3 linked regions of the Homo sapiens genome follow. The protein of the gene in region 2 purifies or fractionates together with the protein of the main gene of each other region. This does not show direct contact. Each region holds a gene or a part of one and is shown on either strand. Other genes may lie near its edges.

What was found.
Region 1: the proteins of TCF25 (region 2) and SHPK purify together in Homo sapiens (affinity purification with mass spectrometry; 2 studies listed by BioGRID and IntAct, with this or other methods). This does not show direct contact.
Region 3: the proteins of TCF25 (region 2) and BCKDHB purify together in Homo sapiens (affinity purification with mass spectrometry; 2 studies listed by BioGRID and IntAct, with this or other methods). This does not show direct contact.

The regions. Positions count from the first base shown.
Region 1 is NC_000017.11:3,633,157-3,640,992, reverse strand, and holds the start of SHPK (sedoheptulokinase), read left to right. Parts: upstream 1-4,742; 5' UTR 4,743-4,773; coding exon 4,774-4,941; intron 4,942-7,836. Other genes in the region: CTNS (cystinosin isoform 1 precursor), read right to left, coding at 726-786. UniProt on the Homo sapiens protein: Acts as a modulator of macrophage activation through control of glucose metabolism.
Region 2 is NC_000016.10:89,876,504-89,883,608, forward strand, and holds part of TCF25 (ribosome quality control complex subunit TCF25), read left to right. Parts: intron 1-6,847; coding exon 6,848-7,009; intron 7,010-7,105. UniProt on the Homo sapiens protein: Component of the ribosome quality control complex (RQC), a ribosome-associated complex that mediates ubiquitination and extraction of incompletely synthesized nascent chains for proteasomal degradation.
Region 3 is NC_000006.12:80,165,601-80,172,705, reverse strand, and holds part of BCKDHB (2-oxoisovalerate dehydrogenase subunit beta, mitochondrial isoform 1 precursor), read right to left. Parts: intron 5,029-7,105; coding exon 4,895-5,028; intron 3,832-4,894; coding exon 3,676-3,831; coding exon of another isoform or gene 3,649-3,675; exon of another isoform or gene 2,490-3,648; intron 1,425-2,489; coding exon 1,316-1,424; intron 1-1,315. UniProt on the Homo sapiens protein: Together with BCKDHA forms the heterotetrameric E1 subunit of the mitochondrial branched-chain alpha-ketoacid dehydrogenase (BCKD) complex.

The sequences.
Region 1 (7,836 bases), on a different chromosome or scaffold from region 2:
TGCTTCCCCAGTGTTTCCCAGGACCCAAGACTCTCTCTGTGAGGTCCACAGGGCAGAGGCATAAGCCATTCTTCTTTTTTTTCTTTTAAAGTCAGGGTCTCAACTCTGTTGCCCAGGCCGGAGTGCAGTAGTGTGATCATAACTCACTGTAGCCTTGACTTCCTGGGCTCAGGCAATCTTCCTGCCTCAGCCTCCCAAGTAGCTAGGACTATAGGCACGAGCCACTGCATATGGCTAATTTTTAAAAATTATTTTTTAGTAGACATGGGGTTTCACTACGTTGCCCAGGTTGGTCTCAAACTCCTGGCCTCAAGAGATCTTCCTGCCTTGGCCTCCCAAAGCTCTGGAATTATAGGCGTGAGCCACTGCTCCAGCCTGAGCCAGTCTTTAAGATATTATCCCAGGTTGTTGGAGCTCTACCGTTTGACTTTGAGAATCAGCTGCATAGTCTGACCTTAAGAACCAGCTGTTCACTTTGGTACAGAAAGGTACAGAGATACCAGGGCAGAAGGCCAATTATATGTGGAACTATCTGGCTCTTTGCAGAACACCTGGATCCCAGACCTGGGTCTGCTCCACCACCCCAGTGGCCACATGGCCAAGAGGCAGACAGAGACATGTGGTCTGAATGATTCTAAACCCTTGGCAACAAACAGATCAGATTACTCCTTCCTCTAGCCACCATTTCCCTCTTTACAAAGTTGACGTGTCATTTCTAAACTTACCACATTTCTCTACGAGCTTCAGGGGAAAAAGGATAAAAATAGTCAGCCAATTCCTTATCATGTTTCTCGATTTCTCAGAACTAGGAAGAAAAACAGCAAGAGAGAAGTTCAGGGGAATGTTGAATCAGCTCAGCTCCCTGTAGACAATCTGCCCTCTGGAGCATGGATGGCTCATAAAGGACTGCCACCTGACAGCTGTGACCTCAGGGCTTTGCATCACGGCCTCAGAGGGACACCCTAGAGAGGACTTATCTTTCTTTGATATACAGGGGAAACGGGCTCCGAGCAGATAAATGGGTTGTGTAAAGTGCCCCCCTGAGGAAGTGAACAAAGACCAGAATTTTTCCCTCTTCAATTGCTTTTTGTAAAAACTTAGTTAGCAGAAAGAAAGAATGCAATTTTACTGGCTTGAGATTCTTTTTCTCCAAAAGTTGTTAAAACTGTGGTCAGATATTTGACATTGTGAACCTATAAACCTCAAGGAAATTAATTTCCTTTCCTGTCCTGGGATAAGAGTCTAAGGGCTGATGACACCAACTGACCCTTAAGACTTAAAAAAACATTTTTTTTTAATATACATATTTAAATTTTTTTTTTTTTGAGACAGAGTCTTGCTCTGTTGCCCAGGCTGGAGTGCAGTGGTGCGAACTCTGTTCACTGAAACCTCCACCCCCTGGGTTCAAGCAATTCTTGTGCCTCAGCCTCCTGAGTAGCTGGGATTACAGGTGCCCCCCACCATGCCCGGCTAACTTTTGTATTTTTAGTAGAGATGGGGTTTCACCATGTTGGCCAGCCTGGTCTCAAACTCCTGACCTCGAGTGATCCGCCCGCCTCAGCCTCCCAAAGTGCTGGGGTTACAGGTAGGAGCCACCGCGCCTGTCAAGACTTTATTTGACAAGTGTCACCATTCCAGGACTGGCTGGGGTCATTCACAAGGAGGACTCGGGGAGGGATGAGCCCCAGAGCAAGTCCTTGGTTTAGTGTGGAAGATGGGGAGCTGCATTCCTGTAAACCCAAGACACAGCAGGTGAACAGTGGGTCAAGAGCAGCCAGGCCGGCATGGATTTCTGTAGCTTGGTCTCCGTGCTGCCTCAGTACACAGTCTCACGGGCCTCCTGCAGACTGTGGGGAGCTCTGGGTAAGGTCTGTGTGGAGACATCCCTGTTCCCACTCTGATTTCAGTTTCCCCAAGGCCTCCAGCATCTCCGGACATCTCCCTTACACACTCCTCAAGAAGTCTCCCTGGCTGCTCCAGCTGTCTGACCTCTGTTGGCCCGTCTCCTCCAGGGTTCTCTCTTTGCCTGCTGCAGGTCTGCCTCATCTGAGACCCTTCTCACCGGCCGGGAATGACCCCGTACCTACTCTCTGGCCTCCTCTGGGGGCCTTGCTCTTGGCGCTGGATCCCTGTGCTCTGTCCCCTGACCTTGGAGGAATTGCCCTCCTGCGTGTATGGAATGACCACAGGCCTCCCTCTCACTCTTGCTGCCCTCCGCTCCTCACACCTGCCCTGTGGCCTCAAGTTCAGGATTCAGTTTGTTGCCCAGGACAGAGTCTGGTTTTTCTCCAGAAATTAGATGCAGAATCAGGCCTAACCAGCTTCTCAAACTCACAGACTTGGTCAGCAAACATTCCCAAGCCTCAAAGGCTGAGACCCCTGGAGGAACGATGCCAGCAGAGACAAAACGACATTGAGAGGTAAGTCAATTAAAATGTTAAAAAACATCAGATTAGGCTGAGCGCAGTGGCTCGTGTGTGTAATTCCAGCACTTTGGGAGGCCGAGGCAGTTGGATCACTTGAAGTCAGGAGTTCGAGACCAGCCTGGCCAACATGGTGAATCCCCGTCTCTACTAAAAATACAAAAATTAGCCAGGCGTGGTGGCATGTGCCTGTAGTCCCAGCTACTCAGGAGGCTGAGGCAGGAGAATCGCTTGAACCCGGGAGGTGGAGGTTGCAGTGAGCCGAGATTGCACCATTGCACTCCAGCCTGAGTGATAAGAGTGAAACTCCGTCTCAAATTAAAAAAAAAAAACAAAAAAAAAACCAGATTGATAATTACATACAACTAGTGGCTTGTGAAAGCTACAAGATAGAAATGAAGTATCTCCTGACAATGGGCTCTGTCTGGCGTGCCCTTCCTATGTAAGTTCTAACTATTGTCCAGGCCTCATTCAGATGTCACATGTTTCAAGAAGGCTCCTCACCCATTCAGTCCCTTCCCAGGAGCAACCTGGGGCTAGGGGTCTAGTGTGGCAGCTCCTGTCTGCCAGGTATGAGTTGGTCCTGTCCTCTGTTCTACGACCTGGAACTCCCTGGGTCTCCTGCTTTTGGAGAGGGTACACAAATAGTGGCAAGGGCTGTGTGCACTGGAGACAGGCTTGACCTATTTATTACTTATGCGACCTTGTGGTGCCAAACAAGGAGGTGGTAACTACCTCACAGGACTTAAATGAGGAGATGTAAAGCACGCATTGTCAAGTGGGACTAAAATTGGCTGGGGGTAGGCTGGGCGCGGTGGCTCACGCCTGTCATCCCAGCACTTTGGGAGGCCGAGGTGAGCGCATCACCTGAGGTCAGGAGTTCGAGACCAGCCTGGCCAACATGGTGAATCCCCATCTCTACTAAAAATACAAAAATTAGCTGGGCATGGTGGCTCAGGCCTGTAGTCCCAGCTACTCGGAAGGCTGAGGTAGGAGAATCGCTTGAACCCCGGAGGCGGAGGTTGCAGTGAGCCGAGATCGCGCCACTGCACTCCAGCCTGGGTGACAGAGGCTGCAGACTCCATCTCAAAAAAAAAAAAAAAATTGGCTTGGGGTGGTAGTGAAGAAATCTAGCTATTACAATGGTTTGTGGCCACAGAAACAAATACACAGCGTACTAGTGGTATTAAATTTTATGGGAAGGGGGTAGGTAGGAATAACGAGGTTGAGAAACAAGGATATAAAGTGGTTACCTCTGTTGCTTAGGGCGCCTAGCGAGCTCTCACAAAACACAGTAATCCTCAATGTTACTGGAAGAGGCAGAGCTCAGGAGTCCTCCCTTCGCCCAGTGTGAAAACCCGGAGGGGAGGATGGGGTCTCGTGCTGCTCAGTCCCCCGGAGCCCCGCACTCCGCACGTCAACCGGCGCTCTCGCAAAGGTTCTCTCAGCGTCTCCAAAGCAATCTGCAAATTCCCCAACCGAGACCCAGGCGGCAACTGAGCAGAAGGTAAGGGGCTGGGAACGGCACCCACCCCGGCAGCCCGCTGCCCCTGCCTCGGCTGACCACCGCTCGGGCCCTTCCACCCGGGGGTTGTCCCGTGTCGCGAGGCCAGCACTGGTGGCGGGGAAAGGAGCCCGCCGCGGCTGAGGGCGCTGGACCCCCGGCAGGCTGCCCCGCTGACCTGCTGTGCCTCAAGGGGTCCGCCTGGGAAACAGGGGAGGCCGCGTCCGCTCTCACCTGAGCGCCCCCAGGCTCGAGGAACCGCCCTCACGGGACGCATGAGCCTCGCCAGGTGCCGGTCAGGAATGCACCGCGTTCCCCTGCCCGGCTAGACTTTGGGAGAGGCGGGTCCGCTGTCACCTGACCTCCGCCACCTGACTCGTGGGGCCGGATCTCGGCGAGATGAGCTCTGGGAGTTGTAGTTTCCGCGCGTCTTAGACGGACAGAGCGCAGCTGGGTCGGGCCGGGGCGCAGAGATCGGGGCTCCGGCGTGAGGGAAGATGAGGTCCGCTGCCAGGGACACAGAGACTCTTGGAGCCGCCAGCGCCTCCCGGCTCCTTTCGTGAGCGAAGCTCAGACCGCCCTCCATTGGGCGGAAATCAGAGCCCGTGGGGCGGGGCCCCCTTTAGGTCCCGCCTTCCGCCGCCTCTCCGCCTATAGCCGGGGCCCGCCGAGAGGTTGCGTGGAAGCTCGCCTTCCCCGGCCAGTGGGAAGACGAGAAGCCTCCATGTTGGGTGTGGCTGAAAGATTGGCAGGCGACTCCCCGCCCCTGCCCCGCCCCCCTGGGCGAAGAGCGCGGACTTGTGGGGCCGCTGGCTGCAGACTGGAGCTGCGCGGGTCAGGGAGATAATGGCTGCGCGGCCGATCACCCTCGGCATTGACCTGGGCACCACATCTGTGAAGGCAGCTCTGCTGAGGGCCGCGCCCGACGACCCATCCGGGTTCGCAGTGCTGGCGAGCTGTGCCCGTGCTGCGCGGGCAGAGGCGGCGGTCGAGAGCGCGGTGGCCGGGCCCCAGGTGAGTTGGACCCCCGGGGCCGCGCCGCCTCCAGGAGCCTCCTGACCACCCTTTTCCACCCCAGGAGGCCTCCCTGACAGCCCTTCCCGCAATGAAGTCTCTATTCCAGCTTGTCCCCAGCTTCTCCAGGGGCCCGTCTGCCTGCAGCAGCTGTGCTCATGATCCCTTAGGTCTGGTCCCAGAATCCTTCCCACCTGCTGGGACCGATTCCCCCCCGCCCCCTCCCCGACTCTCTGGCTTCTTCTGGGGGCCTTGCGCTTGGCGCTGGATCCCTGTGCTCTCTGTCCCCTGACCTTGGAGGAACTGATCTCTTGTGTGTATGGAATGACCACAGGCCTCCCTTTCACTCTTGCTGCTCTCCGCTCCTCACACCTGCCCTGTGACCTCAAGTTCAGGATTCAGTTTGTTGCCCAGGGCAGAGTCTGGGTTTTCCTCCGGAAATCAGATGTCAAATCAGGCCTAACTGGCTCCTGGCTCATTCCACAGAAGCAGAATGCGGACCAAGAAACCTTTGGTCAGCCGGGCGCGGTGGCTCACGCCTGTAATCCCAGCGCTTTGGGAGGCCGAGGCGGGCGGATCACGAGGTCAGGAGATCGAGACCATCCTGGCTAACACGGTGAAACCCCGTCTGTACTAAAAATACAAAAAATTAGCGGGGCGTGGTGGCGGGCGCCTGTAGTCCCAGCTACTCGGGAGGCTGAGGCAGGAGAATGGCGCGAACCCGGGAGGCGGAGCTTGCAGTGAGTCGAGATCGCTCCGTTGCACTCCAGCCTGGGTGACAGAGCGAGACTCCTTCCCTTCCTTCCCTTCCTTCCTTCCTTCCTTCCTTCCTTCCTTCCTTCCTTCCTTCCTTCCTTCATTCTTTCCTTTCTTTCTCTTTCTTACCAAGTCTCGCTCTGTTGCCCAGGCTGGAGTACAGTGGCGTGATCTGGGCTCACTGCAACCTCCGCCAACTGGATTCAAGTGATTCTCCTGCTTCAGCCTCCCGAGTAGCTGGGACTACAGGTGTGAGCCACCGCGCCCGGCTACTTTTTGTATTTTTAGTAGAGACAGGGTTTCGCCATGTTCGCCAGACTGGTCTTGAACTCCTGACCTCAAGTGATCTGCCCACTTCAGCCTCCCAAAGTGCTAGGATTACAGTTGTGAGTCACTGCGCCTGGCCCAGCTTTGTTTTTCACAAGCTCTTGCCACATACATGGACACGGTTGTTTAGGGTTCAGAGCCCATTTGGCTCAGAAGCATTTCTGAGGATAGGGATTTCAGGAGCACTTTGTATCTACATAGAAGCTTTCAAGATTAGTTTGGTTGGGACATTAGGGCATATTAAAAGGATTCTTACTTAAAGGACTATGAATTGGAGGCAAAGTTGGCTCTGACCCTGGTGGGGTGAGCAGGAGAGCTGGCATTAGGGGAGAGTAGGCTCAGAAAGTGCCAGTTTCTCCTGAAATAGAGCACTTCTTTTTTTTTTTTTTTTTTTTTTGAGACAGGGTCTCGCTCTGTCACCCAGGCTGGAGTGCAGTGGTGCAATCTCTGCTCACTGAAACCTCTGCCTCCCGGGTTCAAGTGATTTTCGTGCCTCAGTTTCCCGAGTAGCTGGGATTACAGGTGTGCGCCACCATGCTTGGAGAATTTTTTTGTATTTTTGGTAGAGATGGGGTTTCACCATGTTGGCAAGGCTGGTCTCAAACTCCTGACCTCAACTGATCTGCCTGCCTCGGTTTCCCAAAGTGCTGGGATTACAGGTGTGAGCCACCGCACCCAGCATGGCCACTTTTTTTTTTTTTTTAATTGATCACTCTTGGGTGTTTCTCGCAGAGGGGGATTTGGCAGGGTCATAGGACAATAGTGGAGGGAAGGACAGCAGATAAACAAGTGAACAAAGGTCTCTGGTTTTCCTAGGCAGAGGACCCTGCGGCCTTCCGCAGTGTTTGTGTCCCTGGGTACTTGAGATTAGGGAGTGGTGATGACTCTTAACGGGCATGCTGCCTTCAAGCATCTGTTTAACAAAGCACATCTTGCACCGCCCTTAATCCATTTAACCCTGAGTGGACACAGCACATGTTTGAGAGAGCACAGGGTTGGGGGTAAGGTCACAGATCAACAGGATCCCAAGGCAGAAGAATTTTTCTTAGTACGGAACAAAATGAAAAGTCTCCCATGTCTACTTCTTTCTACACAGACACAGCAACCATCCGATTTCTCAATCTTTTCCCCACCTTTCCCCCTTTTCTATTCCACAAAACCGCCATTGTCATCATGGCCCATTCTCAATGAGCTGTTGGGTACACTACCCAGACGGGGTGGTGGCCGGGCAGAGGGGCTCCTCACTTCCCAGTAGGGGCGGCAGCACGGCCACTTCTTGAAAACTTTTCTGCCCTCCCTCCCCAGCTTTCAGCAGGCTGTTCTGTGCTTACAGGCTCACCCAGTGTGTCACACCTATTTAATGAAGTGCTTAGCGGAGGCCAGTCATTAACCCCCCCACACCACATATGAATCGTGCTCTGGGACAAACAGCACTGCTGTGAGTTAGTCTATATAGCAGGGTTTCTCAACCTTGGTGCTGCTGACATTTTGGGCTGCATAGTTTTTGTTGTGTGAGGGGTGTCCTGCATGTTGTAGAATGTTTAGCAACATCTCTGGCCCACTAGATGCCAGCCACGCTTGCCCCTCTTCCCCAGATGTGACAACCAAAAATGTCTCCATGTTGCCAAATGTTCCCTAGGTGACAAGACCACCCCGAGTAGGAACCAGTGATCTATAGTCATATCTGTGGCCGGGCGCGGTGGCTCTTGCCTGTAATCCCAGCACTTTGGGAGGCGGAGGTGGGTGGATCACTTGAGGTCAGGAGTTCGAGACCAGCCTGGCCAACATGGTGAAACCCTGTCTCTACTACAA
Region 2 (7,105 bases):
TCCTTCCGCCTTGGCCTCCCAAAGTGCTGGAATTGCAGCTCCCAGTACTTTGGGAGGTGGGCAGATCACCTGAGGTCAGGAGTTCGAGAGCAGCCTGGCCAACATGGTGAAACCCCATCTCTACTAAGAATACAAAAATTGGGCCAGGCGTGGTGGCACATGCCTGTATTCCCAGCACTTTGGGAGGCCGACGTGGGCGGATCATGAGGTCAGGAGATCCAGACCATCCTGGCTAACACGGTGAAACCCCGCCTCTACTAAAGAAGTACAAAAAAATTAGCCGGGTGTGGCGGCGGGAGCCTATAGTCCCAGCTACTCAGGAGGCTGAGGCAGGAGAATGGCGTGAACCCAGGAGGCGGAGCTTGCAGTGAGCTGAGATCGTGCCACTGCACTCCAGCCTGGGCAACAGAGCGAGACTCCATCTAAAAAAAAAAAAAAAAAAAAAAAAATTGGCCAGGCATGGTGGTGGGTGCCTGTAATCCCAGCTACTTGGGAGGCTGAGGCAGGAGAATTGCTTGAACCCAGGAGGTGGAGGTTGCAATGAACTGAGATTGTGCCACCAGGCTCCAGCCCGGGCAATACAGCGAGACTCTGTCTCAAAAAAATAAATAAATAAATAAATAAATAAATCGTAATAATAATTATGGATTTGTCTATTTCTACTTTCAACCCTGTCAGTTTTTGCTGTGTGTGGGTGTGTGTGTGTTTTGGTTTTTTGGAGACAGAGTCTCGCTCTATTGCCCAGGCTGGAGTTCAATGTCACAATTATAACTCACTGTAATCTTGAACTCCTGGGCTCAAACCATCCTCCCACCTCAGCCTCCCAAGTAGGTGGAACTATAAGTGGGTGTCACCACACCTGGCTAATTTTTTCAATTTTTTTTGAAAGCCAGTGTGCTGGGATTATAGATGTGAGCTACCATGCCTGGCCTAGAATCTTTTCTGAACTGATTGGTAATGAAAATAGCAACCTATCAAAATTTGTGGGATGCAACTGAAACGATGATTAGAACTTTATCATCGTAAATTTTAAATTAGAAAAGTGTTTAAAAATCTAGAAATTTACCTGAAACTTCTACCTTAAACTAGAAAAAGAGCAAATTAAACTCAAAATGTGTCGAAGGAAGAAACTAATCAAAGAGGGGAATGCACAGAATAGAGTATGGACACGATGGAGAGAATCGGTGAGACCGAAACTTGGTTCTCTCAAAAGACGAGTTGGCAAAAACTCTAGATTGACTGATGGAGGGAAAAAGGGAAGGTCCAGGTACGTTACCATTTTCAGGGATGGGAGAGGAGTGTTCACAGGTACAGATGGTGCAGATAGTAACGGGCGATAAGGAACTTCTTGCTAATAAATTTTCCAGATTAGACAAATGGGCAAGTTCCTTTAAAGATAAAACTTATCTAAATTGACATGTGAAGAAATAAAAAAATCTGAGCCCTTTTATCTATTAAAGATACTGAATTTTTTAAAGTATAAAACATTCCAGGCTAGGGTTGGTGGCTGACACCTGTAATCCCATCACTTTGGGAGGTCAAGGCAGATCCATCACTTGAGCTCAGGTGTGTGAGACCAGCCTGGGCAATGTGGCAAAACCCCATCTCTACAAACAATACAAAAAAACTGTCCAAGTATAGTGGCACTCACCTGTGGTCACAGCTACTCGGGAGGCTGAGACGGGAGGATGGCTTGAACCCAGGAGGTCGAGGCTGCAGTGAGGTGAGATGACGCCACCGTACTCCAGCCTGGGTGACAAAGTGAGACCCTGTCTCAAAAAAAAAAAAAAGACAACCTCAGGCTGGGTGCGGTGGCTCATGCCGGTAATCCCAGCACTGTGGGAGGCCAAGGCGGGTGGACCACCTGAGGTCAGGAGTTCGAGACCAGCCTGGCCGACATGGTGAAACTCCGTCTCTATTAAAAATCACCATTTTTTTTTTTTTTTTTTTTTTTTAGGAAAAATGGACATTTTCCTCTCCCCCTAAAAAAAGATAAAACTCCTTCCTGGTTATTAACTGAAATGCTGATCGAGCTTTATCCTAAAGAAGATCAGTCGTGGACAAGAACCTTGTGAAATGTTCCCCATTTGAGACCCTAAAACTAATGAAAATCACAGCTTTTGGGTAGGTAATAAGGTGTTTTGTTTTGTTTTTTGAGACGGAGTCTTGCGCTGTCGCCCAGGCTGGAGTGCAGTGGCACCATCTCAGCTCACTGCAAGCTCTGCCTCCTGGATTCACTCCATTGTCCAGCCTCAGCCTCCTGAGTAGCTGGGACTACAGGCGCCCACCACCACGCCCGGCAAGTTTTTTTGTATTTTTAGTAGAGACGGGGTTTCACCGTGTTAGCGAGGATGGTCTTGATCTCCTGACCTCGCCATCTGCCCACCTCTGCCTCCCAAAGTGCTGGGATTACAGGCGTGAGCCACCGCGCCCAGCCAGTAATAAGGTTTGTCTGACGGTGATTGACAGCATTTTAGAGCTGATGCATGGCAGTAGAGATTGCAGCAAATCATGTGTCATCACCAAAACTTCACTGAAGAAGCAAAACTAGGCCTGTCACCCGTGCTGTCTGTGTACACAGATGGGCTTCAGAGCCTGTCACACGTGTTGTCCGTGTACACAGATGGGCTTCGGGGCCTGTCATACGTGCTGTTCGTGTACACAGACGGGCTCCTGGGCCTATCACCCGTGCTGTCCGTGTACACAGATGGGCTTCGGGGCCTGTCACACGTGTTGTCCGTGTGCACAGATGGGCTTCGGGGCCTGTCACACGTGTTGTCCGTGTACACAGACGGGCTTCAGAGCCTGTCACACGTGCTGTTCGTGTACACAGACGGGCTCCTGGGCCTGTCACACGTGCTGTCCGTGTACACAGATGGGCTTCGGAGCCTGTCACACGTGTTGTCCGTGTACACAGATGGGCTTCGGGGCCTGTCACACGTGTTGTCCGTGTACACAGATGGGCTTCGGGGCCTGTCACACGTGTTGTCCGTGTGCACAGATGGGCTTCGGGGCCTGTCACACGTGTTGTCCGTGTGCACAGATGGGCTTCGGGGCCTGTCACACGTGTTGTCCGTGTGCACAGATGGGCTTCGGGGCCTGTCACACGTGTTGTCCGTGTGCACAGATGGGCTTCGGGGCCTGTCACACGTGTTGTCCGTGTGCACAGATGGGCTTCGGGGCCTGTCACACGTGTTGTCCGTGTGCACAGATGGGCTTCGGGGCCTGTCACACGTGTTGTCCGTGTGCACAGATGGGCTTCGGGGCCTGTCACACGTGTTGTCCGTGTGCACAGATGGGCTTCGGGGCCTGTCACACGTGTTGTCCGTGTGCACAGATGGGCTTCGGGGCCTGTCACACGTGTTGTCCGTGTGCACAGATGGGCTTCGGAGCCTGTCACACGTGTTGTCCGTGTACACAGACAGGCTCCTGGGCCTATCATGTGTGCTGTCTTTGTAAACAGTCAGGATCCCAGGACTATCACGCGTGCTGTCCATGTACACAGGCAGGCTCCTGAGCCCATCACACGTGCTGTCCGTGTACACAGATGGGCTTCAGAGCCTGTCACACGTGTTGTCCATGTACACAGACAGGCTCCCGGGCCTATCATGTGTGCTGTCTGTGTACACAGGCAGGCTCCTGAGCCCATCACGCGTGCTGTCCGTGTACACAGGCTCCTTTCCATTGAAGTTCAGCTTGGCATAGAGCTTTTTATGAATTCGATTTGTCAAACACCTCAAAATAAGAATTTTTTTTCTTAGGAAGTCAGCATGAGTTAATAAAAGTAAATTGGGTGTTGGCCGGGCGCGGTGGCTCACGCCTGTAATCCCAGCACTTTGGGAGTCTGAGGCGGGCAGATCACCTGAGGTCAGGAGTTCGAGACCAGCCTGGCCAACATGATGAAACCCCATCTGTACTAAAAATACAAAAATTAGCCTGGCATGGCGGCACATGCCTGTAGTCCCAGTTACTCGGGAGGCTGAGGCAGGAGAATCACTTGAATCCGGGAGGCGGAGGTTGCAGTGAGCCAAGATCATGCGATTGCTCTCCAGCCTGGGCAACAGAGCAAGACTCCATCTCAAAAAAAGAAAAAAAAAAAAGTAAATTGGGTGTTGTGGCGTGTGCCTGTAGTCCCAGCTCCTGGGGAGGCTGAGGCAGGAGGATCCCTTGACCACAGGAATTTGAGGCCAGCCTGGGCAACACAGTGAGACCCTATCTCTAAAAACAGACAAGTAAACCAGCACCCAGCTTCACTAAGAGACATCATCATTAGTTGAATGTTGGAGATGGTGTAGATCCAATTTACCAGTGACCACCCACAGGTTAGAAACATTTCAACAATAGGCTTTGTTTCAGCTTTCTTCCTTTACTGCAGGGTGCAAGGCAGCCGGCCCATGCCTAGGCCCCAGCTTCGCCAGCAAAGGCCAGGCAGAAGGAGGCATCACCATGAGAATCACCATCATGGTGCTGCTGGGATGGGACAAACCTCGTTTTGGTGGAGTGTCAGTGTTTTCAAGTTAGGGGCTCTGTTTACATAACACGTCTATACTGCCATGGATTTTCTCAACGGGCGTAAGTTGCTCCTGACTTGTCTCAGCGGGCGTTTAAGATGCTCCTGAATCGTATCCTTGTCATGTGGGAGCCTCCATTGGAGAGAAAGCCGACTGACCGGCAAGCACAGACCTGCCCTGTGCTTTCTTCTCTTCAGCAACCGCAGCCGGGGTGTCTGTCTTCCCAGGTGCAGCCGAGTCTCAATTCTGTTTCAGAAACTATCTCAGGGCTATGGGGCTTGGAGCTGATTGTGTTTTCTGAGGTTTGTGGTTTTCAAGATGTTTTAAATTAAACAGGCAGTTTTATTTATTTTTGAACCTTAGTGCATCCGATTGGATCCATCAGAATCTCCTAGTTCATAAAGAATTGTTGATGCTGGTCTCTGTTAGCTTTTTTTTTAAAAAATTTAGAGCTAGAGTCTTGCTCTGTTGCCCACGCTGGAGTGCCGTTGTGTGATCATGGCTCACTCCAGGTTCCAGATTCCAGGACTGCTGGGCTCACGCAGTCCTCCTCAGCCGCCTGAGTAGCTGGGACTCAAGAGGTGTGTGCCACCACACCCTGCTAATTTTTTGTAGAGATGGGGTCTCACTGTATTGCCTAGGCTGGTTTCAAGCTCCTGGGCTCAGATGATCCTCCTGCCTCAGCCTCCCAAAGCGCTGGGATTATAGGCATGAGCCACCACACCCAATCTGTTAGCCTCTTTTTTTTTTGTTTTCTTGAAATGGAATCTCGCCTTATCACCCAGGCTGGAGTGCAGTGGCATAATCTTGGCTCGCTGCAACCTCTGCCTCCCGGATTCAAGCAATTCTCCTGCCTCGGCCTCCCGAGTAGCTGGGATTACAGGCACGCGCCACTGCACCTGGCCGATTTTTTTATTTTCAGTAGAGACGGGATTTCACCATGTTGGTCAGGCTGGTCTTGAATTGCTGACCTCGTGATCCACCCACCTCGGCCTCCCAAAGTGCTGGGATTACAGGGGTGCACCGCCACCGTGCCCGGTCAGCCTCTCACTAGCTGAGGAGCCAGAACTTTTCCTGTTCTTACCCTTCTCCCACTGCCTGTCTCCCCTCCAATCTGTATGTGAATGTATGTTGTGAGGTTTTATCCATTTAATATTATACTCCTAAGATTCATCCATATTGTGTGTTCAGTGGTGGTTCATTCATTCATTCATTCTCACTGCTATAAAAAGGTTCCAGACTTGGCGTGGTGGCTCACGCCTGTAACTCCAGCTCTTTGGGAGGCTGAGGCAGGAGGATCGCTTGAGGTCAGGAGCTCAAGACCAGCCTGGGCAATGTGTTGAGACCCCCATCTCTACAAAAAAATTTAAAAAATTAGCCAGGCATGGTAGCTCACGCCTGTAGTTCCAGCTACTTGGGAGGCTGAGGCAGGAGGATGCTTGAACCCAGGAGGCCAAGGCTGCAGTGAGCCAAGATCACACTGCTGCACTGCAGCCTGGATGACAGAGCGAGACTCTGTCTCAAAAAGAGAGAGAGAAGGTTTCATCGTATGAATTATTTTTATCGTATGTCATTTTGTTTTTCTATTTTGAGATGGAGTCTTGCTCTGTTGCCCAGGCTGGAGGGTAGTGGTGCGATCTTGACTCACAGCAACCTCTGCCTCCCGGGTTCAAACGATTATACCACTTCAGCCTCCCAAGTAGCTGGGATTACAGGCTCCTGCCACTGTGCCTGGCTAATTTTTGTGTTTTTAGTAGAGACAGGGTTTCGCCATGTTGGCCAGGCTGGTCTTGAACTCCTGACCTCAAGTGATCCGCCTGCATCAACCTCCCAAAGTGCTGGGATCACAGGCGCGAGCACCTCGCCTGGCCTATCATTTTCATTAGGAAAAGTTTGTAGGTTGATGGGTCCTTGGTGCCTTTTTTTCCTGCCTGCTGCTGGAGAGGAGCTGAGGCTTGAGGAGAAAGGAGGAAGAAGGAACTTTAATGCATTGGCTGAATATATATATTTAACGTTTTGTCCTGCAGATGGTCCTCTGTAAATGGAGTAAATTACAATATTTGAGGAGTCTTCCTTACCTCATCTCTGAAGGCAGAGATACCCCATAGCCTCGGGGCCCCGGCTTTCTGTAGAGCTGCTGACAAAGTCCCCCTGAGCCAGAGCTGAGTCACTGCTGTGTCCAACAGTCTCGGGTTCTTGCATCTTTCCCGTCCAGCGTCTCGCACTGACCCTGGGGGTCCCCAACGCAAGCCCGTTCACATCTCACTATTCATATCTCAGCATGAGCGTTCACACTGTAAGTAACGCCCTGGCTCTTCTCCAACCTGTTTTTCCAGATAAACATTGACGATCTTGAGGATGACCCTGTGGTGAACGGGGAGAGGTCTGGCTGTGCGCTCACAGACGCTGTGGCACCAGGGAACAAAGGAAGGGGTCAGCGTGGAAACACAGAGAGCAAGACGGATGGAGATGACACCGAGACAGTGCCCTCAGAGCAGGTGGGGGGCTGAGTGGTGAGGAGGTGGCATCAGACGGGAGAGTTCCAAGGCACCCAGCCACGTGTATCCTGTGCTGTGATTTTCCTTGGAGGTGTA
Region 3 (7,105 bases), on a different chromosome or scaffold from region 2:
TAATTGTGATCTATTCATACAATGAAATGCTACTTATTAAACAATACTGTACACGCCTCAGATTTTTGGGTGTTCTTTTCCCCACAGCCAAGAAGCATTTATTGGCAGGCTGGCTCCAGAAACATAGTTGCAATATGCTAATACTATTCACAAAAAATTACCTTGATGAAGAGGGCCAAGCTACTTTCCTTAGTAACTAGAATACTTAGAAAAATAAGAATAACAAGAAAAATTATTATTACTTAGTAGTAATAATACTATCAATGAACAATGAATATTCGTATGATGTAATGACAATGTTCATTATTTAGTAGTAATGTTCTAATATTGTACAGTTGTAAGATATTATTGTAATAGAAATGAACAGTGAATATTCATCCAATATAATGACCATGTTCCTTACTAAGTAGAAATGTTCTAATATTGTACAAAATTGTAATATTATTGTAATAGAAATGAACAACAGATATTCATACAATGGACTACTACTCAGCAAAGAAAAGTGAATAAACTACTGATACAAGCAAAAACATGAATGAATCTCAAAAGCATTAGGTTGAGTAAAAGAAAGCAAACACAAAAGAACATATGCAGTGTGCATGGATTTATATGAAGCCCAAACACATGTACACCTAATCTGATGGCAATCAGAAAGTGGCTGTTTTTGGCATAGGGAGAATGGATCCATTGTGAAGAGTGAGGAAGAAGCTTCCAGGAGTGATTAAAATGCTTTAGACAGAAAAAAATCATTTGCTATTTAAAATTTCCATTACAGTGAAGAAATTAGCAGTCACAGATGTATGTTTATAAAATCAGGATTTTGAGCTAAAAAGAGGATGACCAAACACCTTAGTTTGCTTTACACAGTCATCCCAGCATAGACCTGACAGCACAGCATAATTGTTAACAGCACCTCCTTCACAGTCAAAGGTATCCTGATTTAAATGAAGGAAGACCTTTATGGTCACTTTAGTTAAAAGGAAACATATACTATTTAGTAAAATGAGCTCATTTACTTTTCTGTTCAATCCATATTTACTAAGCACCTACTATGTGGTTAAACATAGTCCCTTTATTGTTGCTACCACTTCAGATTTCCTCTTTGTTTCCACAATCAAAATATAAAATGGCTAGATGAATTTTTCCCAAACATAAAATTTACACCTGAGGACAAACTAAATACCAAAAAAATCAAGATTCTTTCTACAAGGAAAATATAAATCAACCATATAGAAAAAAAAGATATAACTTTTAGAGCTATAAAAAACAAAGTATATAAAGATATTCACAAATATAAAATAAAGAAAATCTTTACCTGCTGCCCTGTAAAGTATTTTAGGTTCAAAAAATATACAAGGATTTTTATCCTCTATGCATGACAAAAGAAGTCCTTTGGCCTGGAAAGGGCTTCTGGGTATAACCACCTGCAAAAACAGATTTTTTTAAGACAATTTTAGTAAAAATATATCCCAGTAAACTCGCTGCTAAGAAGGGCTGATATTTAAATAATCAATTGTTACTAATTAAAAATAGATATTGGCTATTTATTTTAAGCCTAATTATCACTTATTAAGTTTACATATTATATAAAAATAAAAATGCCTCTTATTCAACAGATATTTATCAGATGTCTACCATGTTCTGTTAACTAAGATACTACTCTTAAGAAGCTAAACTTGCCTATATAAAAAAAATAAAAAGAATATGCAAAGATCATTCATCAAAGCAAAAAACTGTAATATTGTTAATATCTACCTGTGTTTATCTATGAAGAAATCTCTTCTACTAATAATCTGTTTCTACTTTCAAAGTACATGCAACTCTCTTCTCCAGTTTTAACATGTCAAAATCTTCTTTTCCCATGAAAAAAAATATGGTCTTCATTTCATAAGTGAAAAATTAGTCCACTGAGTTTTACAGTCCAGGCACCATAGTGTCCAGTTATATAGCAAAGCAAAAACAAAAGTGTGGATAGTCCACACTTCCACTCACAGGAAAGGGCTCCAGGACCTTCTCGAGAATGAGGGTGATGACAAGGAAGATGATAATGACAGTAGGAAGTACACGTGTAAACTTGGCCAAGCACTCTGTGAATTAATTCATCTGTTCATAGCAACCCCACTAGGTAGCTATTATAATGTTCCTCATTTTAGAAATAGACACTGAGGTTTAGAGAGAACAAGTAGCTTGCCTAAGGTCACACGACTTGCTTGATCAAAGAGTCTCACCCAATTCCCACTGATACCAAAGCTCAAGCTCTTAACTTCTATCTAATGTTGACTTAAATCACAAACTTTGTCTAATTTTAAATGATTATAATTGTTTAAAGACAAATATTATATAGGAAGAGTTATTAAAATAAACCTGAACTTACCACAAAGACTTAAGATTCCCTGAGGCAAACTATATTTGGCTTTCAAAGCCATTTTTATGCCATTTTTATTGAAGGGTTTTATTTTAAAAATAAAAGAGCAGCAAAAATGTCACTATTTTCTGTATAAAAAATTTTATTTTCTGTTCTGGACCTCTGAACACATTAATAACCATATCACACAATGTCTTTATCTTATGTTCCTACTTTTTAAGTTCCCTTCATCTGCTTTCTTCATATTAGCCTTTTGTACTTTAAGTATATTTTCATTTCAGCTGAAAAAAAAAGGAAAAAGGAAGAGGAAGAAAGAAAATGAAGGAGGAAAAGAGAAGGCAGGGGACAGACAGAAAAGATCTGTTCTTAAAAACAATATAATGTTATAAATATTAAATGTGAATTAATGTTTAGCTCAAGCACAAAAATAACTTGCCTCGCACATGGCTTCTTTCCCAGTCTACAACTTCTAGCTCACATTCAAAAATCAGGCAACATCTACTCAACTAAGATAAGCTTATAACTTTGATCTGGTAGAAAAAACAAATAAGAAAAAAAGAATAAAACATAGACACATGCTCACAATCAATTCATGTGGTCAAAAAACAAATATACATCTCTGGATTCACACATCTATGGGTTTCTACAATGATCCCCTGAAAAGCTTATTCAGTAAACAGAAACAGAAAAGATAATACAAAAAATTAAGACATAAAAAACTCAAAATATTTTTACCATCAAAAGACCTAAGCTTTTGTGAAAGACAGGTTATAAAAAGGAGATGCTTCAAAATTAATTGGTTGAGCAAGTATTACCTAACTTTAAACAGAAAAAAAAAATCTAGGTAACAGTCTTCTCTTAGTCTTTTTAACAAGTAAGAAATACATTAAAAGCAAAAGTGTTATCCCTGTGACTTTGAGGTAAATACAGACTAAACAAAAGATTTATTAAAATCACCCCATCATCAGTTAAGTGAGAAAGACTTAAGTTAGAAAGAAATATAAAGCTTTGAAAGAGAGGGGAGGTAAACCAACTATGTTCTTGGTCTTATTCTTTGAAGTCTATAAAATTAATCAATGCCAGAGTTTATAAAACCAGTCCTCCTTCAAAAAGAACTTGCTGTAAAACTGGGCATTGGATAGCATACTTAAAAGAACTGCTAACCTCCCCTTCTTAAATACAGTTAAGTTCACATAAATTCCAAGAATCCTGTTTGTTTTCTTTCCTCTAGATAAGCATAGATATTAAATAGAATGAATCAAAATGGAAACATCAAATAGAAATCAAATAAAGTACATAAATGAACATACCTTGATTCCTGGGCAATGGGCAAAAAATGCTTCAGGACTCTGAGAATGATAGAGAGCCCCATGACCAACACAGCCCCAAGGGGACCGGATAGTGAGGCTTCCACAGTTAAAAAGATCCCCAGAGCGATAGCGATACTTGGCAGCTTCATTAACAATCTGAGGGTCAGAAAGAAAGACGGGGCATGGCACAATGAGTCCTTCCCTTCCAATCTCCTTCCGTTCTTCCTCCCTCCCTCCCTTCCTTCCTTCCCTTCCCAAGGCACAATGAGTCTTTCCCTCCCTCCCTGCCTCCCTCCCCCTCTTCCTTCCTTCCTTCCTGCCTGCCTGCCTTTCTTTCCCATAGCACAATAAGTCTTTCCCTCCCTTCCTTTCTTTCTTAAGACAGGGTCTCGTCCCTCCCTCCCTCCCTCCCTCCTTCCTTCCTTTCTTCCTTCCTTTCCCATGGCACAATGAGTCTTTCCCTTCCTTCCTTCCTCCCTCCCTCCCTTCCTTCCTTCCTTTCCCATAGCACAATGAGCTTTTCCCTCCCTCCTTTCCTTTCTTTCTTGAGACAGGATCCCATCACTCCCTCCCTCCCTCCCTCCCTCCCTCTCTTCCTTTTCTTCCTTCCCTCCCTCCCTCCCTTCCCTTCTTTCTTTTTGAGACAGGGTCTTGTCTTTCCCTTCCTCTCTCCTCTCCTCTCTCCCCTCTCCCTTCTTCCCTCTCCCCTCTCTCTCGCTCTTTCTTTCTTTCTCTCTTCTTTTCTTTTTGAGAAAGGGTCTCATTCTGTCACCCAGGGAGTGCAGTGCTGCGATCACAGTTCATTGTAGCCTTGGACTCCTGGTTTAAGTTATCCTCCTGCCTCAGCCACCAGAGTAACTGGGATGACAGGTATGTGCCACCACACTGGGCTAATTTTTGTAGTTTTTGTAGATATGGGTTCTCATTATCATTATGTTGCCCAGGATGGTGTTGAACTCTTGGCCTCAAGTGATCCTCCCACCCTGGCCTCCCAAAGTGCTGGGATTGCAGATGTGAGCCACTTCACCCAATCCCAATCTATCTGCTTAAACTATTCTATTAGATCTTTAAATATATGCTCATAACAAAATTATAATTGTAATACATTAGTAAAAGGATAATAAAATGTTTAGAATGCAGGTAAGGGTGGGTGGAAGGGTAGCGGCAATACTTGAATATTTCAATGAATGAACAACCTTAGAAATGTTCATTCACTTACCTGATCAAATGCAGGGAAAATATAATCTGCAAACTGAATTTCCGCAATGGCAGTAGCTCCAGTGACCGCAATTCCGATTCCAAATCCAACAATTCCTTGTTCACACAATGGGGTATTAAAAACTCTATCTTTTCCTTAAAATAGAAAAGAAAAAAAGGTTAATGTGGCAAATGAGAGTAATGTCATGCATAATACATTTAAAAATTCAGTAAACTAATAATGGGATGGAGAAGTATAGAACAGGTAGAGGAAACAGAAAATAAAGAGTATGGCTAGCCACGGTGGCTCACACCTGTAATCCTAGCAGTTTGGGAGGCCAAGGCAAGAGGATTACTTGAGACCAGGAGTTCAACACCAACCTGGCCAACATAGTGAAAACCTGTCTCTATTAAAAAAAAATAGTAAGGTGAATTATTTAAATCCAATTAATAATTGTATTAATTGTAAGTAATCTAATGTTTCAATGAAAATAAAAACTGTCACACTAATTTAAAAGAAAGGAAAACCCAACTATTTGAAAGGAAACACAAACTCTAAAGACAGAGAAAGGTTGTTAAAAAAAAGAAAAAAGAAGGAAAAAATAGACAATAAAAAACCTAACCAAAAGAAAGTTGATGTCACTATATTAATAGCAGGCAAAGTAGACTTTCAGGAAAAAAACATACCAGAGATAAAGAGGGAAAACGCATACTGTTAAAGGGTTCAATTCACAAGAAATAAATAATTCTAAATCTATACTTATCTAACAATGGGCTCCAAATAAATGGAAAAAAGCAACACAACTAAAAGGACAAATGGACAAAATCACCACATAGTGGGAGATGATTTTTTAATGTACTAGTCTTAATAACTGACAAAAAAGGCATACCAAAAAAAAGGAGGGAGTGTGAAAAATAGAGATGATTTAAACATGTTCAACAAACATGGCCTAACTGACATACAAAGGACACTGCACCCAGAAGCAAAGAATACAAATCCTTTTCAATTAAACAGAAAACACTGACATCAATTGACCATATACTGGACTACAAATCCAATCTCAACAAATTTTAAAAGATGAAAATTACATATATTCTCTGACCATAGTGTAATTAAGTTAGAAATCAATAAAAAGATCATTCAAAAAATTCTTATGTTAGAATTTTTTTTTTTTTTGAGATGGAGTTTTGCTCTTGTCACCCAGGCTAGAGTGCAATGGCGCAATCTCAGCTCACTGCAACCTCTGACTCCTGAGTTCAAGCCATTCTCCTGCCTCAGCCACCCGAGTAGCTGGGATTATAGGCGCCCACCACTACACCCAGCTAATTTTTGTATTTTTAGGAAAGACGGGGTTTCACCATGTTGGCCAGGCTGGTCTCGAACTCCTGACCTCAGGTGATCCACCCGCCTCGACCTCCCACGGTGCTGGGATTACAGGCATGAGCTACCGGGCCTGGCTAGAAATTTTTTTTAATAAATAGCTAAGTAACTCACAGCTCAAAGAAGAAACTATAATGAAAATTAGAAAGTGGTATTTTAAATTGAATAATAATGAAAAAACTATACAAAATATCTTATTGAGGTTCTGAACGTAATGTCAGAGTTGCGTTTTTCAGACTATCCTTTCCACATTTAATGATTATAAACTCTGGGCAAAATAAAACAAACAACTATTTAAAGGCATTGAAGGGCCAAAAGTAGGCATAAACTGGAGTCTTGACTCTTGAAAGAAATTAAGCCCAGTGGATGACCATGACGTTCATAAGCCTTGTCCTGCAAAAGGACTCCCCAGTCTATGAGTCAGGACAGCTAAAATTCAAACAAATAGACTCAGTCTGGTTGATCTGAGGTGTCAGAAAATAGTCTGTGGCTACCAGTGGTTGAAAATTGAGAGACTAAATCCCTAAAAGAAGGGCACAGCATGGAGGAGCCCCAAAATCTGTGCAAAAACTGATCAAATCCTTGCCAACACTTGTGCCCACAGGACACTCCAAAAGCCCAGCAGCAAATAATCTCTCCCAGTTAAAAGAGCTGTGCCCACCAACAAGGAGGCAGATTTTGGAGTTTGAGACCCTTCAAATTAGAGAAGTTTGATAAACCCTTTAGACGATCCATTCGAACCACTAGGTACAATTTTATTAGCGTATAATTCAATTCTCACTTGACGTTTCACCACCTCTCAGCTCATGCCAGAATTTCATTAGAAATTATAATTTCAGGATTCTGGGTGGA